7 linked regions of the Homo sapiens genome follow. The protein of the gene in region 4 purifies or fractionates together with the protein of the main gene of each other region. This does not show direct contact. Each region holds a gene or a part of one and is shown on either strand. Other genes may lie near its edges.

Region 1 (3,500 bases), on a different chromosome or scaffold from region 4:
TCCATTTGTATTTACCCTCAACACTTAAATAGGCAGTGTGGGCTATGCTCTCCAAAACTGAGAATCCTCTAGTCTTTTTATGTGCATGCACCTATCCCTCCAAGGGGAATCTGAGTTCTCTGAAGACAAAAAGCATGGTTTCTTTTCTTCTGTATTTCTTATTGTTTCCTAGGATAGGGCTGGGTACACACACAGCAGATAATAAGTATTAATAGAAGGCATTCAGATTTGAACCTTATATATTTCCAGTGTCTGCCTCCTCTATTCATAATAAAGATGGCTTTGGCTACAGGCTACTCTGATATTCACTAAAAAGAATGAAATACTTCTTAATTTTGGATCAATTAAAAAATAAATTATAATCAATTTTCATTGTGGATTAGAAAGCACTGAATGCTTTTAGAAGGAAAAAAGGCCTACATGGTTCTTCTGCATAGGTTTCAAAATTCTAGTATAAAATTAACCAAAAATATCTGAAGTGAATATTGAAGCTATTATAAAGGGAATGTACCTGACTTCTTAAATTACCGACCTTCCAACAGAGACTTACACATATGCCCGTATAGTAATCTAACTCGCACATTCCCGTTAAGCCTTCTAGAACTGAATGAATAAATCTTTTGATTTAAGTATCCCCTGGTGTTTCTAAAGATTTTCCATTTAATAGATATATTGTTGCCCAGTTCATTGTTAGGTACAATATAGAAAGTATTATTTCATGTGTATTATTAGACACCAAAGATGAAGGTAGTATGAACACCAAAGATGAAGACAGTATTTTTAAAAAGTTTAATTCTTTCTAAAAATGCACTCTAAGTGAACAAAATAAAGTACATAATGAACATTCATCTCTGAAGCTCTGAAAAATGCTGAAAAGTTGGTCTTCCTAGGCTAACGGTATCTCTGTGTCTAAATTCTGTATATGATGTTCACAAGGGCTCTAAGTCCAAAAAATTAGTCTAAATATTTTTGAATTATTTAATACAGCAGCTATTCTACTGAATTGCAATGGTTAGAAATTAAGGAATTTCAAAACAAATCTTGGTATTTTTCCACAGCATTCAGTAAATGTTCTAGACTAACTATATGCCAGGTTTTGTACTAGGCATGAGTAATTCAAAGATTAATAGTAAGACATAGTAGCCTACTCAATGCTTTTACCAGAGTGCTTTAAATTTCTGGCTTTCTCTTCAGAATTCTGATATTTCAATTCCAATTCCTTTTTATCTTCCTCTAGAAGCTCCAGTTGCTGTTTGAGGTTGTGTATTTCTTTGTGGAGTGTTTCATTTTCTAGTTGCTCTTCTAATTCTTTGACCTATAAGTTATTTAAAAAAAAAAGACTTTTATGGCTGACAGTTTTTCCTTTGTCAAAGAAAAGAAAGGGAAAAAATAAATATTTCCCTTTGACTGTACTTCATAGCAAACAGATTCCAATCCATCTTAACAACCATGCAAATGCTAGATACAATTAACACACAATCATAAATCAGCTAAAGAGCTGATTTAAAATAAATTTACTGGGGAGTTACGTACCAGACACTTTAATTTTTTTTAAGTTTTATTTTAGGTTCGGGGTACATGTGCATGGTTGTTATATAGGTAAATTGTGTGTCACAGGGGCTTGGTGTACAGGTTGTTTCATCACCAAGGTAAAAAGAATAGTACCTGATAGATACTTTTTCGATCCTCTCTCTCCTCCCACCCTCCATCATCAAGTAAGCCCCAGTGTCTGTTGTTCCCTTCTTTGTGTCCGTGTGTAATCAATGCTTAGCTCCCACTTAGAAGTGAGAACATTTGGTTTTCTATTCCCATGTTAGTTCACTTAGGATTATGGCCTCCAGTTCCATTCATGTTGCTACAAAGGACATTATCTCATTCCTTTTTATGGCTACACCGTATTCCATGGTGTAATATGTACCAGATTTTCTTTATCCAGTCTACCACGGATGGGCATTGAGGTTGACTCCATGACTTTGCTGTTGCATATAGTGCTGCGATGAATATGTGTGCACGTGTCTTTATGGTAGAATGATTTATATTCCTTTGGGCATATATCCAATAATGGGACTGTTGGGTTGAATGGTATTTCTGTGTTAAGTTCTTTGAGAAATCGCCACACTGCCTTCCATAATGGCTGAACTAACTTACATTCCCACCAGCAGTGTTTAAGCGTCCCATTTCTCTGAAACCTTGCCAACATCTGCTATTTTTTGACTTTTTAGTAACAGCTATTCTGACTGACATGAGATGGTATCTCATTGTGGTTTTGATTTTCATTTCTCTAATGATTAGTGATGTTAAGCATTTTTTATATGCTTGTTAGTCACACAGACACTTTAATTTTTAAACATGGGTCACTTTTGTACCCATTTTCAAAAGAAAAATTCAGGTAATATTTTAAAAGACTCCTGGGGGACACAAATTTAGTAATAAGTATCAAAAGTCTTCAAAAAAAAAAAAAAAGGAAAGGCTTTCGATTCAGTAAAACCATTTTTAGAAATTATTTTTTAAAATACTCTGAAATATATTCACTGAAGTGGTTTTTTGTTTTGTTTCGTTTTTGTTTTTGTTTTTGTTCTGAGATAGAGTCTCACTCTTTCGGCCAGGCTGGAGTGCAGTGGCGCGATCTGGGCTCACTGCAAACTTCGCCTCCTGGGTTCAAACAATTCTTGTGCTTCAGCCTCCTGAGTAGCTGGGGCTACAGGCACATGTCACCACACCCGGCTAATTTTTGTATTTTTAGTAGAGACAGGGTTTCACCACATTGGCCAGGCTGGTTTCGAACTCCTGGCCTTAAGTGATCCACCTGCTTTGGCCTCCCAAGGTGCTGAGATTACAGGCGTGAGCCACCACACCTGGCCTGAAGTATTCTTTACAACAGCAAAAAGTTGCAAATAACCTAAATGTCCACCAATATTTTTAGTTTAATAAATTATAGCATGTTTATTCAATGAAATACTATGCAACTTTTAAATCACATAGCTTACTATATACTGACATGAGAAGATATATTACCAATGGAAAAAAAATCAAGGCATAAAATAGTATGCATAGTATGATTCAATTTAAACAAACTATATTTATAAAGGTATATATTTACAGAAAGTTCAGCTATGCACCAAAATATGGGATACTTGGTTAATCTTCTTTAACTTTTGCTGTATTTTAAAAATGTATTATAAGGAGCATATGCTATTTTTATAATTGCAAAAACCATATGCTGTGCTTAAAAGACTGCTGCATCTGCAAGGGAACTTACAGACAGCTAAGAAACATTTTAAGCGACATACAGATGGTCCCCAATTTAGGATGGTTTGAGATAGTTTTTCGACTTTACAATGGTGTGAAAGCGACATGCATTCAATACAAACCATACTTCAAATTCTGGATTTTGATCTTTTCCCAGGCTCGCAATATGTAATAAGATACTCTCTCAACAATCCTCTGCAGCGGCAGCCAGCCACAGCTCCCAATCAGTCACATGATCATGCGAGTAAATA
Region 2 (3,500 bases), on a different chromosome or scaffold from region 4:
GAACATGAGTGGTTGGAGCTTGATAAAACTTGTTGAAGTAGATTATATGTGTTTCTTGTGATCTCATTTGCAGTAATTACCTATAAAGTCTGCCCTTTTCCCGCCTGTACCTTGTACAAAGATGAGCATCAGTTCAACGTTGATTTAGAAATTCAGAGTTGGCCGGGCAACTCTGAATACAGCTCACGCCTGTATTCCCAACACTTTGGGAGGCCGAGGTGGGCGGATCACAAGGTCAGGAGCTCGAGACCAGCCTGGCCAATATGGTGAAACCCCATCTCTACTAAAAATTCACCAATTAGCCGGGTGTGGTGGTGTAGGCATCTGTAGTCCCAGCTACTTGGGAGGCTGAGGCAGGAGAATTGCTTGAACCCTGGTAGGCGGAGGTTGCAGTGAGCCGAGATCATGCCACTGCACTCCAGCCTCGGCCACAGAACAAGACTCCATCTCAAAAAAAAAAAAAAAAAAAACAAAGTTACAGTCCTCCCAAAATGTGCTCAGAATTCATCTTTAAATACGACACCCTGTAACAGTTTAGCCAGCTGAGAGAAGCAATAAAATTGTGCATATTTTTGGGTGGTGTGTTTCCAGGTCATGCTGAAAAATACGTAATTAGTATTAAAGCAACCTCACAAAACAGTCAGACGTGGTGGTGCGCCCCTGTAATCCCGCCTCGGCAGGAGGCTGAGGCAGGAGGATTGTTTGAGGCCAGGAGTTCGAGACCAGCGTGGGCAACATAGTAAGACTGCTTTTTTTATTATTATTATTTTTTTATTTTTTATTTGGAGACAGAATCTCGCTGTGTCACCCAGGCTGGAGTGCAGTGGCACGGTTTCGGCTCACTACAACCTCTGCCTCCCTGGGTTCAGCAATTCTCCTGCCTCAGCCTCCCAAGTGGCTGGGATTACAGGCACACGTCACCATGCCCAGCTAATTTTTGTATTTTTAGTAGAAACGGGGTTTCACCATATTGGCCAGGCTGGTCTGAACTCCTTACCGTGTGATCTACCCGCTTCCGTCTCCCAAAATGCTAGGATTACAGGCGTGAGCCACCGCGCCTGGCCAAGACTGCTGTCTTGAAAAAACAAACCAAAAACACTGTTTCTTGTGAAATTAACAAACAGTGATCACACTTAGAGAAGGCTACCTGGGCAAACGAGTGTAATAAATTTTTTTTTTTTTTTTTGACACGGAGTCTAACTCTCACCCAGGCTGGAATGCAGTGTCGGCTAGCTGCAACCTCCACCTCCCGGATTCAAGTGATTCTTCTGCCTCAGCCTCCTGAGTAACTGAGACTACAGGCACCCGCCTCCTTGCCTGGCTAATTTTTGTATTTTTAGTAGAGGTGGGATTTTGCCATGTTGGCCAGGCTTGTCTCAAACTCCTGACCTCAGGGGATCTGCCTGCCTGTACCTCCCAAAGTGCTGCAATTACAGGAGTGAGCCAGCATGCCTGGCCTAAAAATTTTGTTTAAAAAATTTTTAGTTGATAAATAATAATTTTACATATTCATGGTGTACATAGTGATGTTTCAATACATAAAACGTATAGTGATCAGTTGAAGTTAATTAGTATATCCATCTCAAACATTTAGCATTTGCTTTGGGAACATTCAGTATCCTCCTAGCTATTTGAAACTGTATCATATATTATTGTTTTTTTGAGATAGGGTTTCTTTCCCATTGCCCAGGCTGGAGTGCAGTGGTATGCTCTTGGGTCACTACAGCCTCCGCTTCCTGGGCTTAAGCAATCCTCCTGCCACATCCTCCCAAGTAGCTGGGACTACAGGCATGTGCCACCAAGCCCGGCTAATTTTTGTATTTTTAGTAGAGATGGGGTTTCACCACGTTGGCCAGGCTGGTCTTGAACTCTTGAACTCAAGTGATCTGCCCGCCTTGGCCTCCCAAAGTGCTGGGATTATAGGCATGAGCCACCATGCCCGGCTTGTATCATATATTATTGTTAACCGTAGTCATTCTGTAGTAGTACTTATTCCTTCTATCTCACTGTAATTTTATATTCTTTAACAAATCTCTCCCTATCCCTCCCCTCCCTCTACCATTCCCAGCAAATTTTGTTGTGTTTTTGTTTATTTTATTTTATTTTTTTTTGAGACAGAGTCTTGTTCTGTCACCCAGGCTGGAGTGCAGTGGCGCCATCTCTGCTCACTGCAAGCTCCGCCTCCCGGGTTCACGCCATTCTCCTGACTCAGCTTCCCGAGGAGCTGGAACTACAGGCGCCCGCTACCACGCCCGGCTAATTTTTTGTATATTTAGTAGAGATGGGGTTTCACCATGTTGGCCAGGATGGTCTCGATCTCTTGACCTCGTGATCCACCTGCCTCGGCCTCCCAAAGTGCTGGCATTACAGGCGTGAGCCACCGTGCCTAGCCGTGTTTTTGTTTATTAATAGAGACAGGGCCTTGCATTGTTGCCCAGGCTGGTCTCAAACTCCTGGTCTGAAGCCATTCTCCTGCCTCAGCCTCCCCAAGTACTGGAATTACAGGCATGAGCTACCATGCCTGGCCAGTTAATTGTGTTTTAAATGAAAGGGTAGACACAAGTGTGGGTAGTATAGCTTTGTATTAGATATGCACAGACTTTTTGATAAGAGTAAGGACTTAATGTGGAATGTTTAAAGTTTGGCAGAATGCAGTATCGTTAAAAGTAACAGATTATGAACAGTTCGTTTTGTCATCAGTTTTTGGTGAGAGTATTAATATTATTAGTTATACCTCTAGTCCTGAGAATCTGAAGCTGTAAACTTTCACTGTGGAAACATGCAGAGGCATACAGACACAGAATTGTGCTTACAGGTTGAGGACCCGTTGAAGTTTGTTCCTGGAACCAGACTAAGGATCCTATCATAAGTACCCTTGCCCCACCACACCCACCCTTTTTAAATATAATCTTGACACATATCATAAAAGTTGAAACTACATTTCAAAATCATATTTGGCTTTAGTGTTAGAATAACCAATCCCAACAATACTAAAATACTGGACTTGCCATTTTCTTTTCATGCTTCATTTTAAAAACATTTAAAAAGCTTGGATGTATTGAGTAAATTTTGCTGTTATCATTTTGTGGGATTACATTCTGTTTAGGATAAATTTTAAATTTCTGTTCCTCTGCTTGTTCTGTTGAGTTTGTCTGATAACTGCTTTTGTAGTTACTTTTGTGAACCAGTTTACAAAGGCCAAAGCATTTCTAGATCTTGGTGAGGAGTTGGAGGCTTAAAATTACATGCTTTAGGCCATCACCATAGCAAACTCACTAGTAAACTGAGGTTATTTACCTCGTAAGGTAAATTTCTCTGAAAGCAGAGTGAAAATTACATAGTACCTCTTTTTTTTTTTTTTTTTTTTTTTGAGACGGAGTCTCGCTCTTTCGCCCAGGCTGGAGTGCAGTGGTGCGATCTTGGGCTCACTGCAACCTCCGCCTCCTGGGACTACAGGCGTGAGCCACCACGCCTGGTGTACGTCATTGTTTTAAACCACT
Region 3 (3,500 bases), on a different chromosome or scaffold from region 4:
TCCTCCCTCCCCTCTAGTGGGAGGTCTTCCCTGTTTCCTAAATGCTGAGGATCCGCAGGGCTCTCCAGTCTATTCCCTTTACATACTCCCTTCCCTTCCCACCCCATTCACCCCTAGATATTAAAATACCAACTAAACGCTAAGGACTCCCAAAACGCTACCTTCAGTTCAGATCTCGGTGGTGCTTCAGGCCCAGGAGATAGCCATGTAAGTTTCAGTCAGGCAGCCCTTCAATATTGAAAGGTACTTTCAGACTGTACTTCAAACTTAAAAACCAAAAAACCGTTCAACAACCTGCTCCTTATCCTAAGTTATACAGATCTCTGAATAGTAGAAATAAGCTATGTGATAATATTTATAGGCCATTATTTCTTTCTTTCTGTTTTAAGCACCAACATATGTATTTACTGATTTTGGAAAAACTGTCATATACTTCAGAATAATGTATTTGGATCATTTCTAAACAAGAGAATATGAACCAAAGGGAACCCAGGGAAGAAAGTAAATCTGTAACCTTAAACTAGCATGATATTCTTTTCAGGATATTCTCTTTTTCCTAATAAAAATTAGCCAAAAATTAATATTGTTTTTCTTTGAGATGGAGTCTTACTCTGTCACCCAGGCTGGAGTGCAGTGGCTTGATCTCAGCTCACTGCAGCCTCTGCCTCCCGGGTTCAAGCTATTCTCCTGCCTCAGGCTCCCAAGTAGCTGGGATTACAGGCCCACGCCACCATGTTTGGCTAATTTTTGTATTTTTAGTAAAGACAGGGTTTCACTATGTTGGCCAGGCTGGTTTCAAACTCCTGGCCTCAAGCGATCCACATGCCTTGGCCTCTCAAAGTGGTGGGATTACAGGCATGAGCCACTGCGCCCGGCCTACTATTCTCTTTGATCTGAAGATGAACTGAGAGCTGAAAAGCACTGTTTAGATCTGAAATAAGAATCTGAAAGCTCTTAAAAAAAAAAAGGCATTATTTGTCACAGAAGCCATCAGAACAACTACAAAGACCAGGTTTCTTAGGAGAAATAGCTCTAAAAACATGGTTTTGCCAAGCAGGTAGCATCAGTCTTTTTTGTTTGAGACAGTCTTGCTCTGTTCCCCAGGACGGCAAGATCATGGTTCACTGCAGCATCAAACTCTGGGGCTCAAGGGATCCTCCTATCTCAGCCTCCTAAGCAGCTGGGACTACAGGTGCGCACCACCACACCTGGCTAATTTTTAAATTTTGTTGTAGAGATGGGCTCTTGCTATGTTGACCAGGCTGATCTTGAACTCCTGGCCTTGTCAAGCAATCCTCTTGCCCTGGCCTCCCAAAGTGTTGGGATTACAGGCATGGGCCACCAAGCCCAGCCAAGCATCAGTCTTAAAAAAAAAGTGGCCAGTGAAAACAATTGAGGGTATTAAAAAAAAAAGAGAGAGAGAGAAAACAGAAAGCAGGTTAGGGAGACTAAAAACATACTTTCATAAGGAAGTGAAGGAGGTCAGTGGAAGACCAAGGAGGACTCTCAGGGAGCAGCCAGAAAGCTGGGCAGCCTGGGCCCAAGGGAGGCAGGTGGAGACTTCATTCAGAAAAAGAGAGCACCTTTCCCCCAGATTTGAAAGTAACAGATCACTGCAGGAAATATGCAGAAAGAGCAAAATGAAGCCCCCCTTCCTCCAACGTGGAGCTAACCACTGCTGACATTCGGATTTATGTGGAGAAAAGCAGTTTTTAAGAGGAACTCTCGGAATAAGTCTGAGTATCTTGGGTTCATGTTCATATCAATTCTAAAAACTTCATTCATTAGAGTTTGCCCCTGCTTTCACACCATAAATCTCCATACATATAAGCCCCCCCTTTAAAAAAAATTCTTCCTTCAATGTCTTATTAAAATTAACTTAAAAAAAAAACTCAAGCAGCTCGAGCTGCTTTTTTTTTTTTTTTAAGTTAATTTTAATAAGTACAGTAGTGCATGTTTTCTGCAGTAGAAGAAAGAAAGAAGCAGTCTATTTCTAGTGGCTGGGGGTAGGGAGGTGCTGGGGAAGAGCAGGAACCTAGGAAGAGTCAGCAGAGGGTAGCCACGCCCCAGCCCCATGGACGAGACTCCTGAGGAATCCATAAAACTGCGAAGTACTAAGTTCTGGCAACAGATCTCAAACCTGCTCCTTAGCAAGAGAGCTAAAAAGAGAGTGTTTCTTATGTACTCTGTTAATTTGACTCTTAAGGCATATAAACAATAGGGAGACCCTGTCTCTACAAAAATAAAAAACTTAGCCAGATGTGGTGGCATATGCCTATGGTCCCAGCTACTTGGGAGGCTGAGGTGGGAGGATTGCTTGAACCCAGGAGGTCGAGGCTGCAGTGAGTCATGATCATGCCCACTCCAGTCTGGGCAACAGAGAGAGACTCTCAAAAAAAAAAAAAAAAAAAAAAAAAAAAAAAAAAAAAAAAGATAAACAAGAGCTGAAGGATAAGCTTCCAAAATAAACGAGGAAAACAAGAAATCTGTGCTTTTCCTTATGTGATATTCCTGTGCTGCATTCCATGACACTAAGAATATAAAACATGATAACTTCTGTCCTTACGTGTTTACTTCTTAATCTTTTTCAAAGTACGCTATTAAAATGGCAACAGAGGAGTTTTTCTTTTTTCAAGGTATAAAACCAAGAATGTGAGGTGCAGGAGATAAGCATTCAATTTTTCAATGAATTTTTGGAGATGGAAAGCAAGCTTTAAATGCAGATCTGAAAATACGGATTGGCATAAAGTCTATTTAACTAATGCGCAAATTCTCTTCCTCACCTCCTATTTTCATCTATTTTCTCCACCCCCAAATCCAGAGGTTTAAAGAAAAATGAACCGAAATCTGAAATGGGTCTGGAGTAAAATACATCAGCAGGAGCAATGAAGAACTGAAAATACAGATTATGTCAAAAGATGCATACTAAAAGGTTCTCCAAGCCTCCATCCTTGTCCCAGCAACCAATGCACTGTCAGCTAAAGAAATATTAGCAAACATATACATTTGTACAAACATACACACAAAATCCATATATACCAGCCACCCTATAGTAATGGCCACCACCCAACAAGACCCACGCTGGGAACTTAAAATAACAAAAAACAAAACAGAAATGAACAGTCAGAATCATGAGACATTCAAAGAAATCCCACAATAAAATAATTCATTTATTCCTTAAGTTATTAAGCATCTATTCATCGCCAGGCACTGTTTCAGAGGCTGGAATTATAGAGGTAAACAAAAAAAAACCCAAAATCCCTGCCCTCATAGAATGTTTATTTTAGTGGTGAGGGAAACAAGTAAATAAATATGTGGGATGCTAGATGGTGGGAAATGCTTCTGGAGAGAAACAAAGCAGGGAAGTGAGATGGGGGTCTGCACTTCTCAATCCAGTGCTCTCTTCACTGAGGTGACATTTAAGGAAAGACTTGTGGATTCATCCAAAGTGAGGTGTGGGAGCAAGTCGCTGGATATCTGAGGGAAGACACATCCAGACA
Region 4 (3,500 bases):
TACTCGGGAGGCTGAGGCAGGAGAATGGCGTGAACCCGGGAGGCAGAGCTTGCAGTGAGCCAAGATCACGCCACTGCACTCCAGCCTGGGCGACAGAGAGAGACTCCGTCTCAAAAAAATAAATAAATAATAAATAAATAAAATAAATAAATGTGGCCAGGTGTGGTGGCTCACGCCTGTAATCCTCGCACTTTGGGAGGCTGAGGTGGGCGGATTACCTGAGGTCGGGAGTTCAAGACCAGCCTGGCCAATATGGTGAAACCCCATCTCTACTAAAAATACAAAAAGTTAGCTGGGTGCAGTGGCACGTGCCTGTAATCCCATAATCCCAGCTACTCTGGAGGCTGAGGCAGGAAAATTGCTTGAACCAGGGAGGCAGAGGTTGCAGTGAGCTGAGATTGTGCCACTGCTTTCCAGCCTGGGTGACAGAGCAAGACCCCATCTCAAAAAAAAAAAAAAAAAAGAGAAAAAAGAATGAAAAAAAAAACTACTAATGAGTGTTATAGCTTACTTAATTTGTCTAGCAGGCTTTCTGGTTTTTGCTGGAAAGCCGAAAAACAAAAAACAACAAAAAACTACTAATAATTTTAAAAGTCACATTTTCCATATGGTTTTCAGGTTTCAAGTATTATTTCAAACATCTAAATAAGCAAAAGTTTCACATTTCTACATTTTAAGCACTTCTATAAGAATACTACCTGACTTTATGAAGCTATTTTGAAGTGAAGGATATCCAGAAGAAACATATTGATGATTTGTGGTTAAACTTGTATTTCCAGATACAGTTGGTTGGGATGATGCACGAGGACAATGGTTTGTTTGTGAGGCTGTGGATGGATAGTTATATTGCCAATTCAAAGGTGGTGGCAGGTTGGCTTCAGGAAGAAAGCTACTAGAAGGCATTGGTGTAGTAGCTGGGTTCTGAGAAGCAGGTAATGGCATTCGGGGAGCAGGACCACTATGAAGCGAAGGTGTCACTGGATTAGAGGCCACAGGTGGTCTATTAAGAGTCTGCCCAGATCCCTGAGAACCACCATAGTTAGACTGTCCAGAGACTGGATTCAAAGTCTTTGCTGGTATTGGATGAGGGTAGGATCCTGGAAGCTGGAAATTGTATCCTTGGCTCACTGACTCTTGTGAAGACAGCAATGCATTTTGGACAGGACCTTCCAATAAAAGGAGGAAAAATTAGTCTTACCAACGAATATAGCAATACTTTAAGAAATAAAGTAAAACATATATTCTTACAGTCAGCAATAAAAACACATAACTCAATTAAAAAATAAGCAAAGGACTTAAATAGACATTCAAACATACTTCCAAAGAAGATAGCTAATAAGCACATGCCAAAACATTCAACATCATCAGTCATTAGAGAAATACAAACATAATTAGTCATAACAGAAATGTAAATCAAAACCACAATGAAGGCCAGCGCAGTGGCTCACATCTGTAATCCCAGCACTTTGGGAGGCCAAGGCAGGTGGATAGCTTGAGCCCAGGAGTTCAAGACCAGCCTGGGCAACATGGTGAAACCCCATGCCTATAAAAAAAAACAAAAAGTAGCCAGCCTTGATGGTATGCGCCTGTAGTCTTAGCTACTTGGGGGGCTGAGGCAGGAGGATTACTTGAACCCAGGAGGTCAAGGCTGCAGTGAGCCAAGGTCACACCATTGCACTCCAGCCTGGGTGACAAAAAAAAAAAAAAAAGATGGACTAAACAGTAGCAAGTAACAGAGGGAATACAGAGATGTCTCAATAAATGAAAACATTTGTAAAAAAATAATATATAAGCATATGTTGGGTCACTTGGATAAAAATAGGCCATCTCACAGCCCAATGTTGCCACAAGATGTCCTGGCCTAGTTTCATATTTGTATTACAATTTTATTTACTTACTTATGGATTGATTGATTGATTGAGACAGCACTTTACTCTGTCATCCAAGCTGGAGTACAGTGGCACAATCATGGCTCACTGTAGCTCTGACCTCCTGGGCTCAAGCGATCCTCCCATCTAAGCCTCCTGAGAAGCTGGGACTACAGGCATGCACCACCACGCCGGCCTAATTTTTTTTTTTTTTTTTTGTAGAGACAGAGACTCACTATGTTGCCCAGGCTGGTCTCAAATTCCTGAGCTCAAGTAATCCTCCTGCCTCAGCCTCTATAAGCGCTAGGATTACAGGCGTGAGCAAACAGGTTGTATTTACAATCTTATCACAAGCTAATACGCTAAAGAGGTGCCTTCAAGCCAGGTACAGCCAAGTGAAAGCCAAATACCATCAAAATGTACAAAATAAGCAAAAATTTGACAGGCCAATAAAGATGAAAACATGCTGGGCATGGTGCCTCACACATATAATCCCAACACTTTGGGAGGCCAAGGCGGGCAGATAGCTTGAGCTCAGGAGTTCGAGACCAGCCTGGACATAATAGTAAGACCTCGTCTCTATAAAAAATATAAGAATTAGTTGGGTGTGGTGGCGCCTGCCTGTAAGTCCCAGCTACTTGGGGCTGAGGCAGGAGGATCACTGAGCACAGGAGGTTAAGGCTGCAGGGAGCTGCGTTCACGCCACTGCACTCCAGCCTCTGTGACAAAGTGAGACCCTGTATCCTGTCTCAAAAAAAAAAAAAAAAAAAAGAATATGAGGTCATAAGGCCAACTGGCAGGAAGACAGATACAAAAGAACTTGTTTTGTGGTAGTCACCATCATAGACCTATTGTGAGTAACTATTACATGAAAATTTTTTTTTCTGACATCCCTCCCCACTATGTGAAAATCATATATGGATCAATTACAAGTAGTTCACAAAAAGTGTAGTAATAAATATATAATGACACCTTCACTAAATGGATAATTTTTTTAAATTCTGAAGTCATTACTAAGTAGCCCATCAAAATAATGGGTCTGTGAGGCCAGGCGCGGTGGCTCACGCCTATAATCCCAGCACTTTGGGAGGCCAAGGCGGGCGGATCACGAGGTCAGGAGATCAAGACCATCCTGGCTAACATGGTGAAACCCCATCTCTACTAAAAATACAAAAAAATTAGTGGAGCGTGGTGGCGGGTGCCTGTAGTCCCAGCTACTCGGGAGGCTGAGGCAGGAGAATGGCGTGAACCCAGGAGGCAGAGCTTGCAGTGAGCCAACATCGCGCCACTGCACTCCAGCCTGGGTGACAGAGCAAGATTCCATCTCAATAAATAAATAAATAAATAAATAAATAAATAAATAAATAAAAATAAATGGGTCAGTGATTGTGAAGGGGTCCAGAATACGCTACTATGGCATAAAAATTATTTTAAGCAGAAGGCATTTGAGTTCCTAAAATCTCTTATCTGCCTAAAACAGAGCCTTCCAAAAGAACTCAATTGTCATAATCTACTTCCCAGGGGCAACCAGGAAAGATGTCAATCTGACTCATGACCTGAGATGAGAAATTTCCACACCACACCTAAACAGATATCATCACAAAACTATCATATCTATTCTAAAAGCCCATT
Region 5 (3,227 bases), on a different chromosome or scaffold from region 4:
CCACGACTGGACTTACACAGCTTTTGCTATGAGCCATGCACTATGCTCAGCTTTTTAAGTGTTATGAACTCATTTAATCTCCACAATAATGCAGTGAGGTAGGTTATTATTATTAGCATTATTATCCCCCATTGTGCAGATAAGGCACCAAAGGCTAAGTAATTTGCCCCAAACCAGTAAGTGGTGGAGCTAGAATTCAAACCTAGGCAGTCCAGATCTTAACTACTACCCCCTCATTAGAGTGGACAGAAGAGAAGAAGACAGGCTGTTAGCATTTGCTGCTCCTTTCTCACAGAAGAGCCTCTTCTAACAATTCAAATGCCCACCCCCTTAGAGTGGGATGGTATCCCCATGAGGTTTTTCACTTACTCCTGGAAGGCTGACAACACGTTGACTGATTCTTCTGGGGAGAGGCCTTGATACGGGGGGATGGAGTGAGAGTGTGGTGGGTACACCTGGGGCCTGGGGAAAGAAAACAGACCCCCTGATGCCAGCCCTTCTCCTGGACACCACCACACCCTGCTTTTGAACAGGTGTCCCTCTCATGGAAAGGAAGATTCCCTGTTCAGCCCCCAGTGCCAGCTCTCCCAGCTGCCCATGCTAAGATTAGCCCATCTGCACAGACCACTCCCATTCCTGTCTTTCCAGCTCCTTACACCATATCTGGGCCAAGCTGCATGCTCATGGAGGAATCAGGGGCCATTCCAAGGTCATAAGAAGGCACCATGGTAGGCATCTGGAGCTCTGGGGTAGGAAGTGGTTGGTCCCTGGAGGAGGGAAGGAGGTACATGTGACTGACCAAGGGTTGATGCCACCCCTCCTTCCTGCAGATAAGCACTAAGCCCCTGACCTACCCACTGTCCATACCACCACACTCACCTTTCCACGGTCATCTTGATGGTAGCTGGGACATAACCCCTGCCATCCTTACCCATCTGTTCAGCTGTTGTGAGAAGGAAAAGACAGCCATGGAGTGCTCTGGGGTTAGGGAGGAAGGGAGGTGGAAAAGGTGGGCATGGATCATGGGGAAGTAAGAGAAGCACAGCTATGAAATAGGGAGTGACATCAGGATGACACGCGGGCAGGGAGAGGAGGGCAGCGGGGAGCAGGGAGGAAGTGGGTGACAGGAAGGAATCAGAGCTGCCAGTTCCAGCTCACGCTTGTAGTGGCTCCGGAAAGCCTCATCCTTGGGCTTCTTGGGATAGAGATTTTTGAGCTGAGCAAGATCCCGGATTCGGTCCCCCAGTGAGCGAATGGACAGGTCTTTGGCAGAGAATGGCTGGATGTTCTCTATCTGTGGAGAGCCTATGGTAGGAAGGAGACCCTGAGATCCCTCTGTCCGGACTTTCTTCCCCTTCCCCAACCCCTACCATAAGACCTGTTCTCACTCCACCAAGGCAAGGGAGAGAGGACCTAGGGTGGGGCTCCTGAGGGAGAGAGACCCACTAGTCTCCGTTCCCACAGAGCTCACAGTGAGAAGGTGAACATTTAGACCACAGAAGGAAGAAGAGAAGCTGGAAGAACTTCCTGAAGATCAGGATCGGCATCAGGAAGGTCAGGACATTTCATTCCCAGAAGAAACCCCAGAGGGCACAGGCACAGAGACAGAGGACTGGCTGGGGTGGCCTCACCATCCTGGCCCCGGATGACATGGGCAATGGTGATGCCCCCAATCTCTGAGTCGCTGAAGCGGAGGAGAAAGGTTCCGTCGGGCTCATTGAGAAGAAGGCTAGTAACGTACTGTTTGCTGATGAAGCCAATGATCAGCCTGGCCGGGATGAAGGAGAGGATGGGGCATGGGCAGTGAGTATGGAGGTGACTGGTGTATGGCTGCTCAGACTACCCAGGGTGGGGACTCACCGGTCAGACCAGTAGCTCCGGAGACAGCGTTTGGTGAGGTCCAGGACACCATCAAACCACTGCCAAAAGGTGAAGCCACGGCCCAGCAGGATCTCCTAGGGGGAGAGGGGGAAAGGTGTGAGCCGAGGGAGGGCCAGAGCTGGAGCCTGTTTAGGGCAGGCAGTGAGCTGTGAGTGCCCTCACGACAGAATCACAGGGCTGAGGATCAGACCGAACCTGAGACTCCATCAATGACAACGACCAATCCTAATGCTTACACGTGCCAGCCACTATTTCAAGCCTTTCCATATATTTATTTGCTCTTTACCAGGCTATGGAAGTAGGGATTATAATAATTCCATCTTACAGATGAAGAAATGGAAGTCCAAAAACGTCGAATGACTTGCCCAGGTCTACATAGCTGGTAAGAGGCAGAGCTAGGATTTAAACCCAGGCATTCTGGCCCTGGAGCCCCTCTTAACTACTATGCTACACCCTCTCCCTAAGGAGGTGTGGCAGAGGTGACGCCCAAAGGAAGGTAACCTGCTGGGTGTGACTGTCTTGCTCCCTTTAGCTAACACACCCTCTGGTCACATGAGCATTTCTTTCTTCTCTTTAAAGATTCTGTCTCACACAAAAGAAAGAAAAAGAGAGAAAGAGAAAGAGAAAGAAAGAAAGAAAGAAAGAAAGAAAGAAAGAAAGAAAGAAAGAAAGAAAGAAAGAAAGAGAAAGAAAGAAAGAAAGAAAGAAAGAAAGAAAGAAAGAAAGAAAGAAAAGAAAAAAAAACCAAAACATAAAATAACATAATATAACATAAAATAAAAGAGCAAGAGTCAGAAATATGTGGTTCTCTCCTAGCCATGGCACTCACCTGCTTTGGGAACTTGAACAAACTACATAACCCTCTGAGCATCAGATTCCTCATCTGTAAAATGGGGATAATAATAGTATCTACCTCAAAGAGATGTTGGGAGGATTAAGTGAGATAACATACATAAGGTGTTAAGCACAGCGCCTGGCATATAAGCTGTCAACACGTGGTAGCTGGTATTACTGCACATGTCCCTGTGGGATTTTGTTCAGTTTTTGCAACAGGAATTCTTTTTCTTTCTTTCTTTCTTTCTTTTTTTTTTTAGACAGAATCTCATTCTGTTGGCAGGCTGGAGTGCAGTGGCACAATCTTGGCTCGCTGCAACCTCTGCCTCCCAGGTTCAAGTGATTCTCCTGCCTCAGCCTCCCGAGTAGTTGGGACTACAGGCATGCGCCACCATGCCCAGGTAATTTTTGTATTTTTAGTAGAGACGGGGTTTCACCATGTTGGTCAGGATGGTCTCGATCTCTTGACCTTGTGATCCGCCCGCCTCAGCCTCCCAAAGTGCTGGGATTAC
Region 6 (3,160 bases), on a different chromosome or scaffold from region 4:
GGGAGTTTCTTGCTCTGTCACCTAGGCAGGAGTGCAGTGACGCAATCTCGGCTCACTGCAGCTCTGCCTCCCAGGTTCCAGCAATTCTCCTGCCTCAGCCTCCCGAGTAGCTGGGATTACAGGCGCACACCACCATGCCTGGCTAATTTTTGTATTTTCAGTAGAGACAGGGTTTCACCATGCTGGCCAGGCTGGTCTCGAACTCCTCACCTCAAGTGATCCACCCGCCTCGGCCTCCCAAAGTGTTGGCATTACAGGCGTAAGCCACCACGCCCAGCCCCAAATTCTTCAACATGGAGATTCTTTGAGATCCTTTGTGGTGTCCTCACTTTCTACCCCTGCCTCTTCCACTCAGATACTTAGGAGGGTCCTGTCATTGGCCATCTCCTTTTTCTCTCTTCAGACTCTATACACAAGGGATCCCATCTTCTCATAGTTTAAACTGCCACATATGTACTGATTTCTAAATCTGTGCCCTGGGCCCATCCTAACCTCTCTGCTATAGGTCTCAGATATGTATATCCAAATGTTTTCTAGACTAAGCACATTAATTTCTCAAAGGTATCTGACACTCAAATGTATCTAAAACTGAAGTCATTATCCTTTCTCTACCTGCTTTTCTCAACCTGCTTTTCTCCCTATATATCCTATCTCAATTTACAGCACTCCCATCTGTCGTGCCAGGCCTCAGGAATCATCCTCAACCCTTTCTCTGCCACCCTCAGCATCCACTTATAAAAGGCCTCTGCCTCACCTTACAGTGCCAATCAATCATTAAGTCTGGTTAATTCTACCTCCTGAAATATTCCTTCTATCTCCCCATCTCCTGCCCAACTTTAAGCCCTCATCAACTACTGGCTGAATTAATACAACAGCCTCCAAACTCACTTCCCCACCTCTAGTCTTTCCGTCCTAAAATTCAGCCTTCATACATCAACAAGTAACCTACGTCATATGAAGATCTGACCATGCCACCCCAGTGCTTTAAACTCCTCAGGGCTCCCCACTGTATACCTAATGAAGTCCAAGTTCCTCACCATGAGAACCCTCCAAAACTTCATTCCTATCTCACTTCTCTGGCTTCATTTCTCAACTCTCCCTATAACCTTGTACTATAAACTCTAGAACTACATACGTTACCAGTCTCTGGCAATCACCATCCTATTTTACACTGCTGTTTTTACTCCTGCTGTTCCTTCTGCCTGCAAAACTCATTTCATCTTGATTCATCATACTTTTACTCCTTCTTTAAATATAGTTGAGGCATGGTTTACTTTACAAAGCCATTCCTGAACCACCAACATGCTGGGTTAAGTGTATACCACTCCTGACCTATGTTCACCAGCCTTAACATTCAACCACATTAAACAGATTATTCATTAATAGATCTGCTCACCTTTAGTTTTATGCCCTCCGCTCACAAGACAATGTATGCCATAATAAAGGGGATTCCAAACGTTGAACTGAAATAACCCATTCTTCAAAATGATTCATCACTAATCTTCAAATTATAAAGGTACAATGATCAAAGACCCACTCTACTCAATAAGTGTTATCAACTTCATACTTAAGTGAGTTGCTACTGGAGCATTAGGTAAGCCACAATTTGACTTTAAAGGACTTTCCTGAAAAAGACCACTTTGACTTACCTTACATTTAAGGGTGCAAAAAGGAGCCAAATCTAAGATTTCCGGAAACTTTATGTGTTTGTTAACTTTGCGTAGGTTAAAACCAGCCTAAAAGAGAAGCATAACAGATTGACTTCTTTTCTTGGAAAAGCAATACAGGTTAAGTAAACCGAAGTCCCCTCCGACGTCCAAAAGAATATCAACATTAAGTCCTAGTTCAATTTTCTTTGGAGACTCAATTCTTCCTGAACACTAACTGATTCCAAGTTGGTTTGCTTTTGCTAAGTACACATGTATCACACAAAAAACACACACCAACACATTAAGAAAGCTATTCCCAGCTGGACACGATGGCACATGCCTGTAATCTCAGCACTTTGGGAAGCTGAGGCAGGAGGATCACTTGAGCCCAGGAGTTCGAGATCAGCCTGGGCAACACTGTGAGACTCTGTCTCTACAAAAAAATTAAAAAATTAGCTGGACATGGTGGTAGCCACCTATAGTCCCAGCTACTATAGAGGCTAAGGTGGGAGGATCGCTTGAGACTGGGAGGTCAAACCTTCAGTGAGCCATGATCGTGTCATTGCACACCAGCCTGGGTGACAGAACAAGACTGTTTCAAAAAGAAGAAAAACAACTTTTCTCGTGAGAAAATTCTCAATGTTTCTGCTTCAGCCATCCAGAAATGCCAGATTAGACCACAGGTTCTGAGTGCTTAAAACTCAGCGATAGCATAATACTTTTCTGTGAAACACACGCTCTCAGCCTCATGCTCAAACCAAGCTTAGTGAATTGTTAATAAAGGCCCACCCAATTAGTCAAGCCCATACCAACCACAAGAGGCAAAACGTTCTGAAGATACTGAAAGTACTTTCGGAATTTGCAACACAGTTTAGAAGTTATACAGCTATAGCAAAAGTTTTCCAGAAAAGATGAGGTCACCAAAATGATGACAATCCAAGGCACCAATGTCTTTTTATCAAGGGTCCGTAAAAACAAGATGCCACACACAAAACAGAAAAAATCACTAATATTCCTAAGCATGAGATATATGTAACACACCAGTCTTTTTCTTTTTTTAACCTGAAATAAAAGTAAGATGCCAATCGTACTAAAAAGAGGGACATAAATGAGTTCTAGGAAATCTGAGGAGATTGTGCCTCCATCTTCACATGCGCCTCTGCCTAGCCCCTATGTTTTTCCCTTTCTGACTTCATTGACATTACAGTTAAGAAACAACAGAAAACCAAAGAAACAAAGTAGTATGTTGAGACAGTAATGAAAAAAATAGGTAATAAAGTAGGTGTTACATATTTAAAACAAATTTTGGGTAACAAGGAGTACCTGCTGAAATCTCTTTAAATGAAGAGTAAGAACAGGAGGAGCAAGAGAAATTAGCATCTGCTTTTTGGCATTGGTGTAAACATGCTTCCTTTCACCTAAAGAAAAGAAGAAATTTTTAACAGGGAGAAAATCATTTTAGACCCCTAAAGCATTCAGATTTGCTATAAAATCATTCCAAACATCTAAAG
Region 7 (3,500 bases), on a different chromosome or scaffold from region 4:
TTTTGTAATGCTGTCTTAAGTGTGTCTTCCTTTCCTTCAATGTACAAGAAATTGCAAAAATGGAAAGTTTCCCAGCTTCTGAGAGACCCTGAAATGAACTGTTAACAACAACTGAATGGCTAACTTTGAGACTTAGTCCAACTTTGTGTTGAGTAACAGTATATTCTGCAAACCCTGAAGCTAGTTTTATTTGGGATCATGTTTTTAGTGCCCTATTTGGGAAATGTTATATTTTTTAATTTGAGATATTTCGTGTATTGTATCATTTTTGCAGCATAATATTTCCAGAAAGGTGGTAATGGCTGCATGGTCAGCCAGTCACTGCATGGGAGACCTGACTATGTCTTTGATGCTATTCCTTGAAGATCCTCTTTCTGATCTGTAGGTTGACTTCCTTAGAAAGTTAGAATTGAATAATGAAGATCCTTTATTGGCTTAGATAAGCAGAAGAAAACACTCTTTTCAAATATACAGTCATACTCAATAAATTCTTAAGAATTTTCTCACATGGTATTCAGGAAGAAATACTCTTAGAATAATTTGGTAAATAATAAATATAAGATATATTGAGACAGCAATCTTTTGTTTTAATTTCTTCAGTATTGCTATTCATAAATGATAGTAAGCTTGCATTATTGATTTATCATCCTTGTCAACTGTGCCACAAGCCGCATTCACATTCATTTCTTCTTAGGCAGGCTGTCTGTCTCTCTCTCTCGCACACACGCACACATGCTCACACAGAGAGCCAAATTCTTATTTTCTACCTTTCTCTCGAAGGTCTTCTGCCGAGTCCTGCAATATGAATATAATTTTAAAAATCCAATTAAGAGAGAGTGATGGGGCAGAACACATAATTCCCAGAGTAATAAAATCCCCAGGTATATGAGTTCGGAAGTAAAATATTTTGTAAAGATTACCATAGATTTAAAAATGTTAAGACATAATACCAGAGCTTACCAGGAGGGATACCTGTATATTACAAGTTAATATCCCTAAAACTGATGTGTTTAGTGGTCAGAATCAGCATCATCTGGGAGCTTGTTCGGAAGACAGAATGTCTGCCTCAAGCCAGATGTATTGAATCAGAATTTGCATTTTAATGAAAATCAAAGGTAATTCATATGCACATCAAAGTTTGAGGAACACAGTAATATGACACTATTAAATATTTTATAGCTGGATTAGAATTACATAAAATGTAATCAAAAAATAATTCTATCAATGCATATTTAAAAAATCCACTTTTGATGATACCCAAAATTAGTTTATACTTATATATTTCTTCTTACTTCGTTAAAATTAACATCGATTTTCTAATAAACAGAAAACCACTACAAGGAGATGCTCAATAATTGTTGAAATCTGATAAAACTAGATTGAAATCACATTGGATTAGATTTAAAAAGGTATCTTTAAATGGAAAAGAAAGACAGACTTAGAAGATGGGAAAAATAACAGCAGTCAGTTTTTGGTACACCTCCTCAGTATCACATACCTGCCTGTTTTACTCGCTAAGCTGCATGTTCTCTGCAGGTGGAGACTCTGATATTCAGATGTGCTCTGAACAGGGGGCACATTTCAATCGATGAAGAAGTAAACAATGATTTTCTTTAATTTATTCCTTTATTTTTAAGCATTAAAATATTCGGCTGCTAAATAACTTTGCTATTACTACTGACATTTTTCTACTATTTATCCACTACAAAATCTCAGAAGTAACATAAATGGTATTATAATAACAATGTAATAAAACTGAGAAGTAAAACCATCAGGGAATAATTAACCAGGGCGTGTATCTACTTTCAGATTATGACCACTCATTTCATCCTGTCTCCTTGAAAATTGTACAAGCTCTGTTCATCCACTAGGGTAAAGCATGGCATCAGCTTATTGAATAAACACTTGAATGTTCCTGGTAAAAGAAAAGATTTTATTAAACAGTTAATATTTGGAACTAGGTTTACATCAATCATCTGCTTTTTTAGAGAACATGATTGCCCTCTAGTGTGGTGAAAAGTTAATGCAGACACCGAGGTTTTCCAATGGACAGAACCAGTCTAGGTTCTGAAAACATCTGGGTCACTGGCTAGTTCAGTATTTTCTTTTTTAATGAAAAAATTCTAGCATTTTTTCATATAAGGTCACAGATCTTGTGACAACAGGATAATATGTGTTTTTCTTCCCACGACCAAAAAAGAAACTGGTGTGAGCTGGGGTTCGCTATCAGCAGCTCCCAGTGGCCACGCCCAGGCCTAGGTTTGTGCTCTGAGCTTCCTCCTGCTCGGAGGCCAGCTTTTTTCAGCCTCCTGTGAGCAATGAGCTACCAAGGTAGCCTGAGCATGTGATCAGTCACACTCAGTTGAAGTAAAAAATAATGGTGATTGATAAATCCGGAATTTTCCTAAAGATGGCCTGAATTTATCAATGACAAAGTCTTCCATTCAATATGTATCGATTCATCCTCCACTTCATTGTTAGTTGTACAGATTTAACTTTAAAATTCTGTTTGATAGCTACTGCTAGGTATTCACAGAACTAAGTAACTATTTGATCTTAAATTATAGGGAAGAAAACTATTTTATTATATGAATCAGCCTTATGGCACTCTGAAAGGACATTTCCTGAATCTGAGTAAATTGTAGCCTCTTGTAGCATTTTTTAATCACTGAGAATGAGCTATTTGATGGAAGTCATATTGTGCCAAATGATTAAATGCTTATTCCACCATCTATCCATTAGTAATTTGAAAAATAAAAACCCAAAGTAATTAAAACTGCTTTCAATGCAACAAATAAAAGTTTGCTAAAAATATTAATGAGGTAATAGCTGTAACAATAAAAACACTCATTTCTCTTTTAGAATAGAATAATTTACTACAAATCTGTAAGTCACATTATTGTAAAAAAAAACCATTGTGAATTTTGACTAAAGTTGTAGATTTTAATAGCACAAATGTCCAATCTTAATTATCATTTTAAAATATACTTTCTCTCAGAGAATTTTAACGTGCATAGACAAACACCACAAGGTCTATTAATTTATCCTATCATTCTAGCTACCTGCGACGTGTTACACTGGGACAGAGAGTGTTTATTGCAGGCTCAGCTTACTCACCTGGTATAAACTAAATACATGAGATTAATTGATAAACTACTGCCATTTCTTTCAGTTTTATCCTGAAATTCTGACCAAATCCTCAGCTTTTCATTTCTAGTTACTTATATATCCATTCAGAAGGTGCCCACTTCATTAGAAAAGATAATGGGGAATATTATATGCACCTCTTACAATCATGCTGAATACATAATTGTTTAATGAATCAGGAAAAAAGCACTCGCCCTGATAATTAATTATCTTTGAAATTGGAATTAATTTCAAAATCTATTATTTTAATACTGCAGAAGTAGTGTTTTTTTCATGATTTGCAAATGCAGTTAAATTATGGCCAGAAAGGATGCTTGCGTTTGTCATATTTGGGGTGGGATTTTTATTTGGAT

Evidence for each region.
Region 1: the proteins of SEC24A (region 4) and SHTN1 fractionate together in Homo sapiens (co-fractionation; one large-scale study listed by BioGRID). This does not show direct contact.
Region 2: the proteins of SEC24A (region 4) and USP34 fractionate together in Homo sapiens (co-fractionation; one large-scale study listed by BioGRID). This does not show direct contact.
Region 3: the proteins of SEC24A (region 4) and FAM118B fractionate together in Homo sapiens (co-fractionation; one large-scale study listed by BioGRID). This does not show direct contact.
Region 5: the proteins of SEC24A (region 4) and STAT6 fractionate together in Homo sapiens (co-fractionation; one large-scale study listed by BioGRID). This does not show direct contact.
Region 6: the proteins of SEC24A (region 4) and USP16 fractionate together in Homo sapiens (co-fractionation; one large-scale study listed by BioGRID). This does not show direct contact.
Region 7: the proteins of SEC24A (region 4) and STMN2 fractionate together in Homo sapiens (co-fractionation; one large-scale study listed by BioGRID). This does not show direct contact.

The regions. Positions count from the first base shown.
Region 1 is NC_000010.11:116,928,688-116,932,187, forward strand, and holds part of SHTN1 (shootin-1), read right to left. Parts: intron 1,316-3,500; coding exon 1,162-1,315; intron 1-1,161. UniProt on the Homo sapiens protein: Involved in the generation of internal asymmetric signals required for neuronal polarization and neurite outgrowth.
Region 2 is NC_000002.12:61,464,588-61,468,087, reverse strand, and holds part of USP34 (ubiquitin carboxyl-terminal hydrolase 34), read left to right. Parts: intron 1-3,500. UniProt on the Homo sapiens protein: Ubiquitin hydrolase that can remove conjugated ubiquitin from AXIN1 and AXIN2, thereby acting as a regulator of Wnt signaling pathway.
Region 3 is NC_000011.10:126,218,282-126,221,781, reverse strand, and holds part of FAM118B (protein FAM118B), read right to left. Parts: intron 1-3,500. UniProt on the Homo sapiens protein: May play a role in Cajal bodies formation.
Region 4 is NC_000005.10:134,658,785-134,662,284, reverse strand, and holds part of SEC24A (protein transport protein Sec24A), read right to left. Parts: intron 1,167-3,500; coding exon 699-1,166; intron 556-698; exon of another isoform or gene 496-555; intron 1-495. UniProt on the Homo sapiens protein: Component of the coat protein complex II (COPII) which promotes the formation of transport vesicles from the endoplasmic reticulum (ER).
Region 5 is NC_000012.12:57,098,136-57,101,362, forward strand, and holds part of STAT6 (signal transducer and activator of transcription 6), read right to left. Parts: intron 2,765-3,227; coding exon of another isoform or gene 2,414-2,764; exon of another isoform or gene 1,956-2,413; coding exon 1,861-1,955; intron 1,769-1,860; coding exon 1,632-1,768; intron 1,306-1,631; coding exon 1,159-1,305; intron 944-1,158; coding exon 880-943; intron 768-879; coding exon 657-767; intron 463-656; coding exon 370-462; intron 1-369. UniProt on the Homo sapiens protein: Carries out a dual function: signal transduction and activation of transcription. Involved in IL4/interleukin-4- and IL3/interleukin-3-mediated signaling.
Region 6 is NC_000021.9:29,048,668-29,051,827, reverse strand, and holds part of USP16 (ubiquitin carboxyl-terminal hydrolase 16), read right to left. Parts: intron 3,068-3,160; coding exon 2,973-3,067; intron 1,737-2,972; coding exon 1,650-1,736; intron 1-1,649. UniProt on the Homo sapiens protein: Specifically deubiquitinates 'Lys-120' of histone H2A (H2AK119Ub), a specific tag for epigenetic transcriptional repression, thereby acting as a coactivator.
Region 7 is NC_000008.11:79,614,117-79,617,616, reverse strand, and holds part of STMN2 (stathmin-2), read right to left. Parts: intron 1-3,500. UniProt on the Homo sapiens protein: Regulator of microtubule stability. When phosphorylated by MAPK8, stabilizes microtubules and consequently controls neurite length in cortical neurons.